4 linked regions of the Homo sapiens genome follow. The protein of the gene in region 1 purifies or fractionates together with the protein of each later gene. This does not show direct contact. Each region holds a gene or a part of one and is shown on either strand. Other genes may lie near its edges.

Region 1 (3,500 bases):
GAAGATGGGAGGTCGGGCGTGGTGGCTCACGCCTGTAATCCCAGCACTTTGGGAGGCCAAGGTGGGTGGATCATCTGAGGTCAGGAGTTTGAGATCAGCCTGGCCAACACGGCAAAACCCCGTCTCTACTAAAAATATGAAAATTAGCCGGGTGGGGTGGCGCATGCCTGTAATCCCAGCTACTCGGGAGGCTGATGCAGGAGAACTGCTTGAACCCAAGAGGTGGAGGTTGCAGTGAGTTGAGATCGTGCCATTGCATTCCAGCCTGGGCAACAGAGTGAGACTCTGTCTCAAAAAAAAAAAAAAAAAAAAAAATCACTCCCTCATTTTAATGAGGGAGGTATGGGCTAGACTGGTAGGTTCTTCTAAGGTGGGAGAATGGCCAGAGGTGGCCAGGTAGAGGTGGGAAGTTGCTGTCATTGTGACCTCAGTACACTTCTATCCCCTTCCTTTCACTCACGCCCTCCCCTTTGGGTTGTGCCCACACCCTTGACACACAGGCATTTCCTCCTGCAAGTGGGAGGAGAAAGGAGAATGGAACATGATGGCATTCTGGGATTGGCTGCTCGTTAAAGTGCTCTTTTAATAGCGGATGGAACTGGCTAAAACAAGGTTTCTAGAGAATTTCATTTATTTGTCAGCTGCCTCATTTTATTAGTGAATCAATGAGTTAATGAGCGACGTGGTCAGCCAAAGTTGTCCAAGTTCATTAAGACAGAGGTGTGGTAATTTCCAGGGCTGCCTTTGGGACCTTATCAATCATTCTGGAGGTTCTTACCTTTATTTTATATTTTGTAAAGATAACTTGGGAGGCCCATTCCGTGGTATTTTAAGTGACCTCTGGAGAAGCCTACCTGGGCAAATCGTGCATCTTCCTCCTTGTAATATTTGCTTTCCCTCCCACCAGCCCTCCCCCTGCCACTGCCCCCATTTCTCAACTCACCACCAAGCTGCTGTGCTTCAGGCCTCGATTTGCACTGACCTCTTAGGAAGCAGAATACCAAGGGCTTCAGTGGCATGTCCCATTATGGGGATGACATGGCCATTAGTAACCATGGAAACCGCCCTGCCACCCCCCCCCCCCCGGCTTATGTGACTCTACAGGCCTAATTTACACCCGGCTCTTCCAGATTTGAAGGGGTTATGGGGACCCAAGCACAGTGGCACCTTCCTTTTGCCCTGACAAGGCAAATATCAAGCACTTTCAAAGCCTTTTCAGATTAGAAGAAATAAGCTCAGGTCTTTGATTCAGTAAACTTGGATATGTATTCTTAAAAAATCCAAAAAGAAAAGGGGGGAAAAAAAAAAAGAAACAACCTCTTCATGTTTGGTGTTTTTACAGCAACAAACACAAAACACACAGAGGGAGGATGTGTTTTCTAACAGTCAAAACTAACCTTCAGAATGGACAGGCCTGAAGGCTGGAGCCCAAACAGGCCACAGCCAGCGGTGCTGCCCCCTGGGCACAGCCTTACAAATGAGGACGTAGGTTCCATCAGCCCCCATTTTTCTTCTTTTTTCAAAGAACCTTTACAAATAACTCATCAGCCGGGCTCAGTGGCTCATGCCTGTAATCCCAGCACTTTGGGAGGCAGATGCAAAGGAATTCCTTGAGTCCAGGAGTTTGAGACCAGCCTGGGCAACAAAGTGAGACCCCGTCTCTACCAAAATATTAAAATATTAGTTGGGTGTGGTGGCAGATGCCTGAAGTCCCAGCTACTTGATAAGCTGAGGGGGGAGGATCGCTTGGGCCCAGGAGTTTGAGGCTACAATGACCTATGATCGAGCCACTGCACTGCAGCCTGGGTGGCAGAGCAAGACTCTGTCACTAAAAACAAAACAAAACAAAACACCAAAACCAAAACCAGACCCTTCCACTACAAGAATAAGTATGTGAGGTAATGCATACGGGAATCAGCTTAACTGAGCCATCCCACTAGGTAAACATATTTCAAAACATCATATTGTATGTGATCAATATACATCATTCTTATTTGTTAATTACAAGAAAAAGACGCCACCATCTGTGTCAACATCTCTGTACCCTACAATCTATATTAACCCTGGCAACGAAAAGAAAGCAAGCTGCGTTCTCCCCTGCTGCCTGGGTGAGCAGGTGGAATTACCTGTCTAGGCCTGGCCAGCCTCTGCAGGGACGCAGTCGGAGTCTGATTCAGCCAGTTCCGACACACCTTCTGCCGCAGCCTGACTCCAGCTATCTGATCTATCTGAGATCGCATCCTCCTCCCCGACCGTCACCTCCACGTAATCCACAACGCTCGACTCCTCGTTCTCGTCGCTACCCTGGCCGTCCCGGCTGCTGCCCTCTGACCGGTCTGAGGTGGCCTCTGAGGGCTTTGCTGGCAAACAGTCTTTTGCTGGCTCGCTGCCTACTTTTACCCTGGTCACCAACTTCTCCAAGTCCTCTTCGCAGAGCTTTTTGGGGTCCTTGTAATATTGTGGAACCACATCACCCCCGTTCTTTGGGCTCTCGGCCATGGGTTTTGTTGCTTTCCTTGCTACGGCATCGTAGCCGTGATCATCTGCCATGGGCTGGTGCTGGTACTGCTCCATCCACTTCACGGTTCCCGTTTTCAGCAAGCATCTGTTCTCCTTGAACCAACGCACAATCTCAGTTCGGACCAGGCCAGTCTTGGCCGCTAACTGGTCGTACTCCTGGGGAGTAGGCCACTGGGTTCTTGCAAACGTGCTCCTCAGGAGATGAACCTGTTCTTGACTTTTTGCAATTGCTGGCGAAGGGCTGGGCAGAGAACTTGTTAACTGGGCACCGGAGAGCTGGTCGAGTCGAGACAGAGCACCATTGGGGGCTCCCACATCTTGGCCTTTTTTGCCAGACCCCATGGAATCCAAGACAGCTTGTTCCATGCTGTCTCGAAGCTTCCGCCTCTCCGAGAACCAGGAGTCGATCTCTCTCCTGCTCAGCTTGGTCTCCACCCTTAGCCGATCCAGTTCTGCTTGGGTAGGAAAAGAACTTTTCAAAAAGCTGTCTTCCAAGATTTTAACCTGACCCTGTGTTTTCTCTTTGAACTTCTGGGGGGCAAAGTCTGGGTACGCATGATACGTGCGACCGTGTCGGGAGGCCGCGATGGCCAACTGGTCTTTGGCAAGGGATTCGCTGGTGATGTGGACGATGCCCCTTTGACACCGATATCGGTGGTCACTGAACCACTTCTTGATCTCGCTCCTGGCAAGGCCAGTCACCTCGATGAGCCGGTAAACCTCGGCATCGTCAGGGAACTGGCTCTGGAGAAAGCTGGCCTTGAGATGTGCTATCTGCTCCTTTGTCTTCTTGCGGTCACTGGCTGGTGTGAGCGGGGGGTTGGCCACCTTGGGTGGGGGCTCTGGCACCTGAGCGATGTGTGGACGCTTGGGTTCGGGGGCAGCTTGGGGAGTCACCAAGGGTCTCTTCTGGCCATGGTTGGTGACTCCTGCCACGGCAAGTGTGATGGGGGAGCAAGAGACGGTTGTTGACCCGCTGG
Region 2 (3,500 bases), on another chromosome or scaffold:
GTTTGGGAGGACGGGATGGTCAGGTCAGGCAGGGGGTGCTCACCGTTGTAGGGGTCAATGCCCAGTTGAATCTTCCGCTCAATGGCAGCCTCAATCTCCTTCTTCCTCACACACTGGATGCCCAGGTTGTTAAAACTGAGGGGGTGACGGGGGAGGGAGAGGAGTGCTCGTGAGCAGGCAAGTGTGGCCCTAACCTGCAGGAGGGCTCTGGCAGATGCTGCTGTGGGGCTCAGGCTCTCAGGGGCTGACATCCCAGGCCCAGGGGTCCCAGCATTAGAAACGGTCTGGGGTTTAAACCTCTCAGAAGGCCAGCGCGGTGGCTCACACCTGTAATCCCAGCACTTTGGGAGGCCGAGGCAGGAGGATCACTTGAGGTCAGTAGTTCAAGACCAGCATGGCCAACATGGTGAAACCCTGTCTCTACTAAAAATACAAAAATTAGCAGACATAGTAGTGCATGCCTGTAATCCCAGCTACTCGGGAGGCTGAGGCAAAAGAATCACTTGAACCCGGGAGGCAGAGGTTGCAGTGAGCCGAGATTGTGCCACTGCACTCCAGCCTGGGCAACAGAGTTAGACACCATCTCAAACAATAAAAAATAAAATAAACCTTTTGGCCAGACGTGGTGGCTCACATCTGTAGAATCCCAGCACTTTGGGAGGCCAAGGTGGGCAGATCACGAGGTCAAGAGAGGGACACCATCCTGGCCAGCATGGTGAAGCCCTGTCTCTACTAAAAATACAAAAATTAGCTGGGTGTGGTGGCGCACACCTGTAATCCCAGCTACTCAGGAGGCTGAGGCAGGAGAATTGCTTGAGCCCGGGAGGTAGAGGTTGCAGAGAGATGAGATCATGCCACTGCACTTCAGCCTGGCGACAGAGCAAGAATCTGTCTCAAAAAATAAAAATAAGCATGTCAAAGGTTCTTGAGAAGATCCAGAACATGCCTTATCTTTACCATGTGAGAACACTGGCCAACTTCATCTTTAATAGGAAAACTTCAGGCCGGGCGTGGTGGCTCACGCCTGTAATCCCATCACTTTGGGAGGCCGATACGGGCAGATCAGGAGGTCAGGAGATCGAGACCACCTTGGCTAACACGGTGAAACCCCGCCTCTACTAAAAATACAAAAAAATTAGCCAGGCATGGTGGCGGGTGCCTGTAGTCCCAGCTACTCGGGAGGCTGAGGCAGGAGAATGGCGTGAGCCTGGGAGGCGGAGTTTGCAGTGAGCCGAGATCGCGCCACTGCACTCCAGCCTGGGCGACAAAGCGAGACTCCGTCTCAAAATAAATAAATAAATAAATAAAATAAGAAAACTTCAGGGCCAGGTGCGGTGGCTCACGCCTGTAATCCCAGCACTTTGGGAGGCCGAGGCGGGTGGGTCACAAGGTCAGAATTTTGAGATCAGCCTGACCAACGTGGTGAAACCCCGTCTCTACTAAAAATACAAAAATTGGAGGCCGAGGCGGGTGGGTCACAAGGTCAGAATTTTGAGATCAGCCTGACCAACGTGGTGAAACCCCGTCTCTACTAAAAATACAAAAATTAGCCAGGTGTGGTGGCTGGCGCCTGTAATCCCAGCTACCTGGGAGGCTGAGGCAGGAGAATCGTTTGAATCCAGGAGGCAGAGATTGCAGTGAGCAGAGATCGTGCCATTGCACTCCAGCCTGGGTGACAGAGTGAGACTCGGTCTCAAAAAAAAAAAAAAAAAAAAAAAAAAAAGAGGCTGGGCACAGTGGGCTCACACCTGTAATCCCAGCACTTTGGGAGGCCGAGGCGGGCGGATCACGAGGTCAGGAGATGGTAACCATCCTGGCTAACACGGCGAAACCCCGTCTGTACTAAAAATACAAAAAAAATAGCCGGGTGTGGTGGTGGGCGCCTGCAGTCCCAGCTACTTGCGAGGCTGAGGCAGGAGAATCACTTGAACCCAGGAGGCAGAGCTTGCAGTGAGCCGAGATCGCGCCACTGCATTCCAGCCTGGGCGACAGAGCGAGACTCTGTCTGAAAGAAAGAAAGAAAGAAGGACGGAAGGAAGGAAGGAAGGAAGGAAGGAAGGAAGGAAGGAAAGAAAACTGCAAATTAAACACCAATGAAGATGCCTTTGTTTTGGGGCACTCATCAAAATAGCAAAAATCAAAATGTTTCATAATACTCGGTGCTGGTGAGGTTGTGGAGAATCAGGTGCTCTCACCCATTACTGATGGGTCTGTAAATTGCATAACATGGCAGTATTCATTCATTCCACAAATATTTCCTGAGCACCTACTATGTGCCAGTTACTATGCCAGACACTCGGAATACAGCAGGGAATGTAAGAGACAAGATCTCTGCTCTCGGAACTTATATTTTCACTAAGTTTAAAAATTTCTAAAATTAAATCTTCCAGACCTGAGTGTGAGCAATACTCAGCCCTACCTCTGAAGTGCGTGCTGCCTTTAGGGCTCTACCCAAAGTCAGTGTAACACAGTGAAGTGTGTCACTACCTTTCTGTCTCTTTGCACTATGAAAAAATGCTCAAAGTTTTAGATGTAGCCACTGTATGTTGTGTAAGCATTTGTGGACATATGCAAAATAAAAGTTATACAGTGCTTCTGTTTTAAAAAGAAAGAAAAGGCCGGCACGGTGGCTCATGCCTGTAATCCCAGCACTTTGGGAGGCCGAGCTGGGAGGATCACCTAAGGTCAGCAGTTCGAGACCAGCCTGGTCAACATGGTGAAACCCCATTTCTACTAAAAATCCAAAAAATTCGCTGGGTGTAGTGTCGCATGCCTGTAATCTCAGCTACTCGGGAGTCTGGGGCAGGAGAATCACTTGAATCCGGGAGGTGGAGGTTGGAGTGAGCTGAGATCGAACCATTGCACTCCAGCTTGGGCAACAAGAGCAAAACTCCGTCCCAAAAAAAAAAAAAAAAAGATGAATTGTAAAGTAAGAGAAAGAACAGACCTTGCAGTTAAGTCAGGTCTGCAGTCAAATCCCAGCTCTGTCATCAATTATCTGTGCTCCTTACCCTCTCTGAGCCTCAGTTTCTTCCTCTACAAAATAGGGATAAAATGTATGTGAATATGTGTGTGGCAAGGCTCCAGGCCTAAGTGAGGCCCTCCACTGTCCCCAGGCCTGTCTCCCACCTAGAAGAGGCAGTGGGGAGGGTTTACCCAAGCTGCCCTCTGCTCTAAAGTTTCATGGGTGGCCTCCAGTCGCTTAGAATCTCCATGATCAAGGATGAGAGGTCGGAGGTCAGGGGGTGGGTACCTGTGCCGGGGGCTGACGTGAGGCCGGAGCCGCACCCTGCAGATGCCGTCGGTGCAGTCTTTCCCCACGAGGCTGTGGGGGTGGACTCGGTGAGGCCAGTCCTTCCACACCAGGCAGGCAGTCACCTCCACCTCCCGCAGCCCTCCACAATCCCGGAGCTGCAGGAAGAGAAGTCCTCTTTGGGGGTCCCATCACCGATGCCTGCGTCCATCCAAACTCCTTGGGGCCTTCCTTGGCAGCTCCCCAA
Region 3 (3,500 bases), on another chromosome or scaffold:
CATCATCTGGCTGTGATTTGCTACCTTTCATGAGTAGTACAGACAGGACTTGGAATCAGATGCCCAGCTGCTCTTCAAACACTGAGCCCATGATATCAACAGCTCAAGACAATTAACAGGGACTGCAGTAGACCACTAATTTTCTACTCTCATCCATTTACCAATTTAATATAACAAAACAGTCATCAGTAAATGGTTACAGGAAAGGCTTCTGATAGAAACTAAGAGAACTCTATTTCCATTATTTATTTGCTGAAATTTAGAAATGCATTTCCTCAAGGCTGGGCACAGTGGGCTCACACCCATAATCCCAACACTTTGGGAGGCCAAGGTGGGAGGACTGCTTGAAGCCAGGACTTCGAGAAATGCATTTCCCCCACAGTTAGAAACAAAATTAGAGACTGATCACTGGTTCTGCTTTGGAGTAGATGAATTTAGCCTACCTGTCAGCTTTGTCCTTGCATGTCCAGCAATGTGCTTTTATCTAGGAAATATGTTTCAAAAACTACGCACAGCATAAAAATATAAAACAGTTTATTTTCTAAATGTTTGAATATGCCATAAGCAAATCATGCTAAAGAAAAAAATGTGTTTAAATACTCTATCATTTAGTAATCTTATCCTTTTTTTCCTAAGCCTGAAAGATATGCATTATTTCCTATTTTACTGGTGAGGAAACTGAGGTTCAGAGTTTTGAATAACTTATCCATTAGCACACAACTAGTTGTGAGCAGGAAGTAGAATTAGGCTTACCTAGTGCAAACAAAAAGCTTTTTAAAATCATATTGTGGGGTATCATAATTGAAGTTATAAGCCATTGTGAAGACATGGAACCTTAACATATGCTTCTACTCTATGTGCTTGCTGCTGCACGTTCCATTATATTCCATTATACGCAAAGTTGCTGATGGCAAAAATTGGAAAGATTTGAGTTGCTTGTAACAGTCGACCCAAATAACAATGACTTAAAATGAGAGATTTTATTGTTCTGTTACATAAAACAAGTCTGAAGGACATTCAGGGCCAGCATGGTGGCTGCATGGTCATCAGTGACCCAAGCTATTTCTGTTTTCTGTTTTACTATCCCATTGCAAGACTTCTGTCTTCAAAGTTACCTTTTGGTCCAGGAGGAATTCCAGCAGTTTCAGATAGTGGGAAGGCCAAAGGGATGTGCCTTACAACTGAGTCAGCCCTGTCTAAGCAGAGTCCCACACAGTCATTCCTTTCATCTTAGCCAGAACTTCCATGGCCACACCATGCAGGCGTGTGAAGCTGGGAAATGCAGTCATAAAGAGTGTCACATTGCGCCCCCCAAAAAATTGAGGTTCAGATACTGAGAAATATGGAGAATGCATATTGAATGGCAAGTCACTGTCTCTGCCATAGCTAGAAAAAACTCCTCACAACCTATGTCTTATACCTTCCCAAACCACATAGGCAAACGACGAAAATCCAATCCCAAACCCCTTGTTCTGAGTGAAGCTAGAAAGCAGTTAATGATCTACAGACTACCTCAGGTTCTCCGGCTGCACCTTAAAAGATTCAGGTGAGCTTGCTGTGGGAGTCCCAGCTGGGTGAGAGCTGTGGGAATAGCTGCTCCAAAGGCTTTGGTGAGGGCAAATGTCTTCTATGGTGTTGGGAGGGGAAGCCTGTTCACTTGAGACCTCGTGTTTTCCATGGAGATTAAACTGTTCACATCCACTAAGGCAAATTGATGTGGGAGCCCAGCAGGACTGGGCTTTTGCTCTCATGCTCCTGTGTAATTAATTATCCAGCCTGCACTGGGTGTCTGTGCTTAAAGATTTTCTAGCCTGGCTTGGACTTATGTAGATTCATCTTCAGGATGAAGTATAAAATAATCTGCAAAAGAAGCACAGGCAGGAAACTACAAAAAGACTGTTGCTTGAATTGCTTGTTTAGGGATCTCTAGGTTTAGAGTACTTCATGGAACATTAACAGCAAATAAATGGGCCAGGCGCAGTGGCTCATGACTGTAACCCTAGAACTTTGGGAGGCCAAGGTAGGCAGATTGCTTGAGCTCAGGAGTTTGAGACCAGCCTCGGCAACATGGTTAAAACCCTGTCTCTACAAAAAATGCAAAAATTAGCCAGGCATGGTGGTGTGCACCTATAGTCCCACCTACTCGGGAGGCTGAGGTGGGGGGATCACCTGAGCTCGGGAAGGTTGAAGCTGCAGTGAGCCTTTATCAATCACACCACTGCACTGCAGCCTGGGCAACAGAGTGAGACCCTGTCTGAAAATAAATAAATAAATAAATAAATAAATAAATAAATAAGTGTGAACATTGATTACCACCATTTTATTGATGGGAAAACCAAAACCAGAAGGTTAAATTTTCTCAGTTTCCTGTTTTATTAATACCTACCTCTACCTACGATTATATATGCCAGTTTTTACTAGTAACAAGCTTATATCCATGTTCTAGGTGGTCTGGCCGTAATCATCGAGAGAAGATTGGGGTCCATGTCGTCTTTGACCAGGTATTAACCATGGAACCTTACTGCTGCAGGGACATGCTCTCCTCTCTTGACAAAGAGACCTTTGCCTATGATCTCTCCGCAGTGGTCATGCATCACGGGAAAGGGTTTGGCTCAGGACACTACACAGCCTATTGCTACAACACAGAGGGAGGTGCGTGCGCTTTACTCTGTGGGGTGGGGGACACGGAAAGGGGTTGATTTGTCCACATTTTATTGTTTTCCTTTTATTTCCATCCCATGGATTACCTAGAGGGAAATTACATACATCAAAAATCCAGTGGAAAGAATTGTGAAAATTGGGTTGGGCGCCGTGGCTCACACCTGTAATCCTAGCGCTTTGGGAGGCCGCGGTGGGTGGATCACCTGAGGTCAGGAGTTCGAGACCAGCCTGGCCAACATGGTTAAACCCCGTCTCTACTAAAATAGTACAAAAATTAGCCGGGCGTGGTGGTGGGCACTGGTAATCCCAGGTACTCAAGAGGCTGAGGCAGGAGAATCGCTTGAACCTGGGAGGCAGAGGTTGCAGTGAGCCAAGATTATGCCACTGCACTTCAGCCTGGGTGACAGAGCAAGACTCTTATCTCAAAAAAAATAAAAAGAATTATGAAAGTTGGATTCAAATTTTGGGTATATTACTAAGTAACAACATATGGTTGTTCTAAGAATTAAAAGGAACTGACATGTAAAAGTGCTTAGAACAGGACCTAGGCCCTGTGCAATGGCTCACACCTGTAATTCCAACACTTTGGGAGGCAGAGGCGGGAGGATTGCTTGAGGCCGAGGGTTCAAGACTAGCCTGGGCAACATAGCGAGACTGCATCTCTACAAAAAATTTAAAAATTATCCAGGTGTAATGGTGTGCACCTGTGATCCTAGCTACTTGGGAGGCTGAGGTGGGAGAATTGCTCAAGCCCAGGAGTTTGAAGTTGCAATGAGCTATGATTTCACCACTGCATTCTAGCCTGGGCAACAGAGTGAGATCCTGACTCAAATAAATAA
Region 4 (3,500 bases), on another chromosome or scaffold:
AGTTTCCTGGTCTATATTTTTTAAAAGTAGGGCATAAGCCAGGGAGAGACAGGAGAAATAGGGATTCAAGCAGATAATTCTGGAGTTTTCTTTAAAATTGGATTACTTTTAACAGTTTGTTTTTACTCACCACCACTGCACAGAGGTTGTATTTAGGATATTTCCGGAAAATTGAGCAAATATAAGGAGTGAGGTCCAAGTTAGTGAGTGGGTAATGAATATCCGTTCTCAGCTTCCTTTTTGTTGTACCCTGAATGTCAAACCTGCAGGTATAATAAATGTGTGAAATACAAAGTAAGCTTGTGAACCACTCATTTGTCTACATGACAAATTCCGAGTATTTTAAAAGTAATTTCTTGACTGGGCACAGTGGCTCATGCCTGTAATCCCACAACTTTGGGAGGCCAAGGTGGACATATCCCTTGAGCCTAGGAGTTTGAGACCAGCCTGAGTAACATGGCAAAACCCCGTCTCTACATAAAATTCTCACCTGTAGTCCCAGCTACTCAGGAGGCTAAGGTAGGAGGATCACCTGAGCATAGGGAGGCTGAGGCTGCAGTGAGTCGTGATTGTGCCACTGCACTCCAGCCTGGGTGACAGAGTGAGACCCTGTCTCTAAAAAAAAGGAACTTCTGGCCTGGCAAGGTGGCTCACGCCTGTAATCCTAGCACTTTGGGAGGCTGAGGCGGGTGGATCACTTGAGGTCAGGAGTTAGAACCAGCTTGGCCAATATGGTGAAACCTCGTCTCTACTAAAAATGCAAAAAAATTAGCCGGGCATGGTAGTGGATGCCTGTAATCCCAGCTACTCGGGAGGCTGAGGCCGGAGAATTGCTTGAACCTGGGAGGCGAAGGTTACAGTGAGCTGAGATCGCACCACTGCACTCCAGCCTGGGTGACAGAGCGAGACTCCTTTCCAAAAATAAAAAATAAAAAAAAAAAGTAATTTCCTGGAAAGATTATTTGGTACAGACTTATAAATTACTTTTTTCTTATCTATTTAAATACCGCATCCACAAGCCTCACCAAAATGAGACTGGAATTTGAATCAAGGAGTGAGATAGCAAAGATTCAAGCTAAACTGAATCTAGCAGGGCAAAAAGAAAGGGATAACCAAGGCTCAACATTGGGGGAAGCAGAAACCCCATTGATAATTCCTGAGGCTTTTGCTCCAGCTGAGCCTATTTATTCTAACCAAGCTAGCTCAGCTTTTCCTTATCTTGTTTTCAGCACAGGTAGTCTTGGCAATGTCCTGTTTTCAAGCTCTGAGTTTTTGTTTGTTTTTTTTTAATGTTTTAATAAGAACATTTTGTGAAAATCTTTCACATTCTGTATTGTTACATGGATCCTAAGTTTGTAAATCTGGGCTCACATCAGAGTTACTCAGAAGCTTTTAAAAATATAATTATGTTCATTTTGGAAAAATGGCTGATGGAGGTCTGAGGCCGGGAAATTACCGCGACTGAGACATTCTTGTGTCAGAAAGCAAGATACCCTGTTTTCAAAAAACTAAGGGAATGCCATGTGATCCAGCAATTCTGTACCTAGGTATCATCCCAAGAGAAATGAAGCCTTAGGCCCACATAACAAGCTATCTGCTAGTATTTGTAGAAGTTGTATTCCTAACTATGCAAAACTGTAAACAACCCAAACGTCCATCAACTGGTGGAGACATAAGCAACTATGGTACACTCACAAAAAGGAATAGCACACAGCAATAAAAAAGGCACTACTAATGCACGCAACAACACAAAAGAATCATGCTAAGTGAAAGAAAAACTCTGAAAGCTACATACAGTATGACATAGCACGTTCTGGAAAACAAAATTATAGGGACGGAAATCAGATCAACAATTTCTATAGGCTTAGGGAGGAGAATGATTAGAGAGGAGCATGAGATAACTTTTTGGGGTGATGGAAATGGTTTATATGTTGGTTGTAATGGTTACATGACTGCATGCATTTGTCAGAGTTCATAGAACTGTGCACCTAAAAATGATACATTTTAGGTAAGCATACCCTAATAAACTAATGGGGCCCCAGGAGCTGACTTGAAGGGGCTCCCACTGGCCAATTTTGAACAATTTGAACACCAAAAGCAATGATGAGAGACATCTAGTTTTCAGTTCAACACGTAAGGAAACTTTGAAGTCACCATTCTGTCCTAACAAGTTAAAAGCTAAATAAAGCTTTTGGTTATTTTCCTTCCCTCAGGAAGGAAAGAATTAACCGAAAGGAAAATAAACAGCTCTTCTTAGAGCTGAAAGAGCAGTGAGGTCACAGGACAAACCACTGCCCCCAAAACTGGAAAAACAGACCAGCAAACATAGAGAATCACAGACTTACCAGAGCCAAAACTGCCGAGCAGAAACCTCTGAGGGAACAGGTCTGCGTAGGAAAACCTGAACTGTAATTGATGAATTGCTAGAGGCTCAGTGCAGAGTCTGAGAGTTAAAAACTCCAAAGAATCCAGTCACAGGGGGACCACACTTTGTGAATTTTCCTTCCAGGAGCCCAACCACACTCGCACGGTAAATATTAGAGACAAATCTCCTCATGCTTCTGGCAAGAAGAAGGGAAAGAAACCATTCTGAAATAGGCTAAAGCACCCTGTTCGTAAAGCCTGCCCACAGGAGAAACTCATTAACCAGAGCCTAACCTGCTGGGGTCTTATCAGAGCTTAACTAACCTGGGAGAAGGAAAACACCCAACTCCAGCCCACTCTAGCCATCCTGTTCCACCGAAGCGGGTGTGGAGGGACTGAGCAGCGCTTGTGAAGTTCGTAGTCTGGAGGCTGAAGTTCATTAAAAGACCGAGACCCACTCATAGGATTATGGAACGCTTCCCCTCCCCCTCCGCCTTACCACCCCATCATTAAGGTCTATTTAAGTCAGTTTCTCTTACCCAGTTCATCATATCTGGCTATCAGGAAAAAATTACAAGGCATACTAAAAGGCAAAACACACAGTTTGAAGAGACAGTAAGCATCAGAACCAGATAGCGCAGGGGTGTGGGAATTTTCAGACTAAGAATTTAAAACTGATCAACACACTAAGGGTTCTAACGAATAAAGTAGACAGCATGCAAGAACAGACGGTCAATGTAAGCAGAGACTTGGAAATCCTAAGAATGAACGAATGAACCAAAAGAAATGCTAGAGGTATCCTTGTTAGTACAGTGGTTAGTTTCTTTTCTTTTCTTTTAACTACTAGAGGAAAAAACTGCATCTTCTAACATGTGAAGAATGCCTCTGATGGGCTCATTAGTAGACTGGACACAGCTGAAGAAAGAATCTCTGAGCTTGAGGAACCTCAGTAGAAACTTTTAAAACTGAAAAGAAGAAAGAAAAAAGACTGGCCGGTCAGGCGCAGTGGCTCACGCCTGTATCCCAGCGCTTTGGGAGACCAAGGTGGGAGAATCGCTTGAGCCCAGGAGTTTGAGACCAGCCTGGGCAACAAAGTAAAAGCCCCTCCCCCTGCCCCCACCATGCCTCCTAAAAAA

Evidence for each region.
Region 2: the proteins of ZHX2 (region 1) and RELB purify together in Homo sapiens (affinity purification with western blotting, with the first as the bait; one study listed by BioGRID). This does not show direct contact.
Region 3: the proteins of ZHX2 (region 1) and USP49 purify together in Homo sapiens (affinity purification with western blotting, with the first as the bait; one study listed by BioGRID). This does not show direct contact.
Region 4: the proteins of ZHX2 (region 1) and USP50 purify together in Homo sapiens (affinity purification with western blotting, with the first as the bait; one study listed by BioGRID). This does not show direct contact.

Annotation. Positions count from the first base shown.
Region 1 is NC_000008.11:122,952,655-122,956,154, reverse strand, and holds part of ZHX2 (zinc fingers and homeoboxes protein 2), read right to left. Parts: coding exon 2,131-3,500; 3' UTR 2,127-2,130; exon of another isoform or gene 618-2,126; intron 1-617. UniProt on the Homo sapiens protein: Acts as a transcriptional repressor. Represses the promoter activity of the CDC25C gene stimulated by NFYA.
Region 2 is NC_000019.10:45,021,964-45,025,463, reverse strand, and holds part of RELB (transcription factor RelB), read right to left. Parts: intron 3,412-3,500; coding exon 3,254-3,411; intron 3,227-3,253; exon of another isoform or gene 2,992-3,226; coding exon of another isoform or gene 2,948-2,991; intron 136-2,947; coding exon 44-135; intron 1-43.
Region 3 is NC_000006.12:41,797,876-41,801,375, reverse strand, and holds part of USP49 (ubiquitin carboxyl-terminal hydrolase 49), read left to right. Parts: intron 1-1,437; coding exon 1,438-1,546; intron 1,547-2,446; coding exon 2,447-2,652; coding exon of another isoform or gene 2,653-2,699; exon of another isoform or gene 2,700-3,500. UniProt on the Homo sapiens protein: Deubiquitinase that plays a role in several cellular processes including transcriptional regulation, cell cycle progression or innate immunity.
Region 4 is NC_000015.10:50,529,667-50,533,166, forward strand, and holds part of USP50 (ubiquitin carboxyl-terminal hydrolase 50), read right to left. Parts: intron 2,562-3,500; exon of another isoform or gene 2,346-2,561; intron 264-2,345; coding exon 131-263; intron 1-130. UniProt on the Homo sapiens protein: Deubiquitinating enzyme that removes conjugated ubiquitin from specific proteins to regulate different cellular processes. Regulates the inflammasome signaling pathway by deubiquitinating 'Lys-63'-linked polyubiquitination of the PYCARD/ASC adapter protein.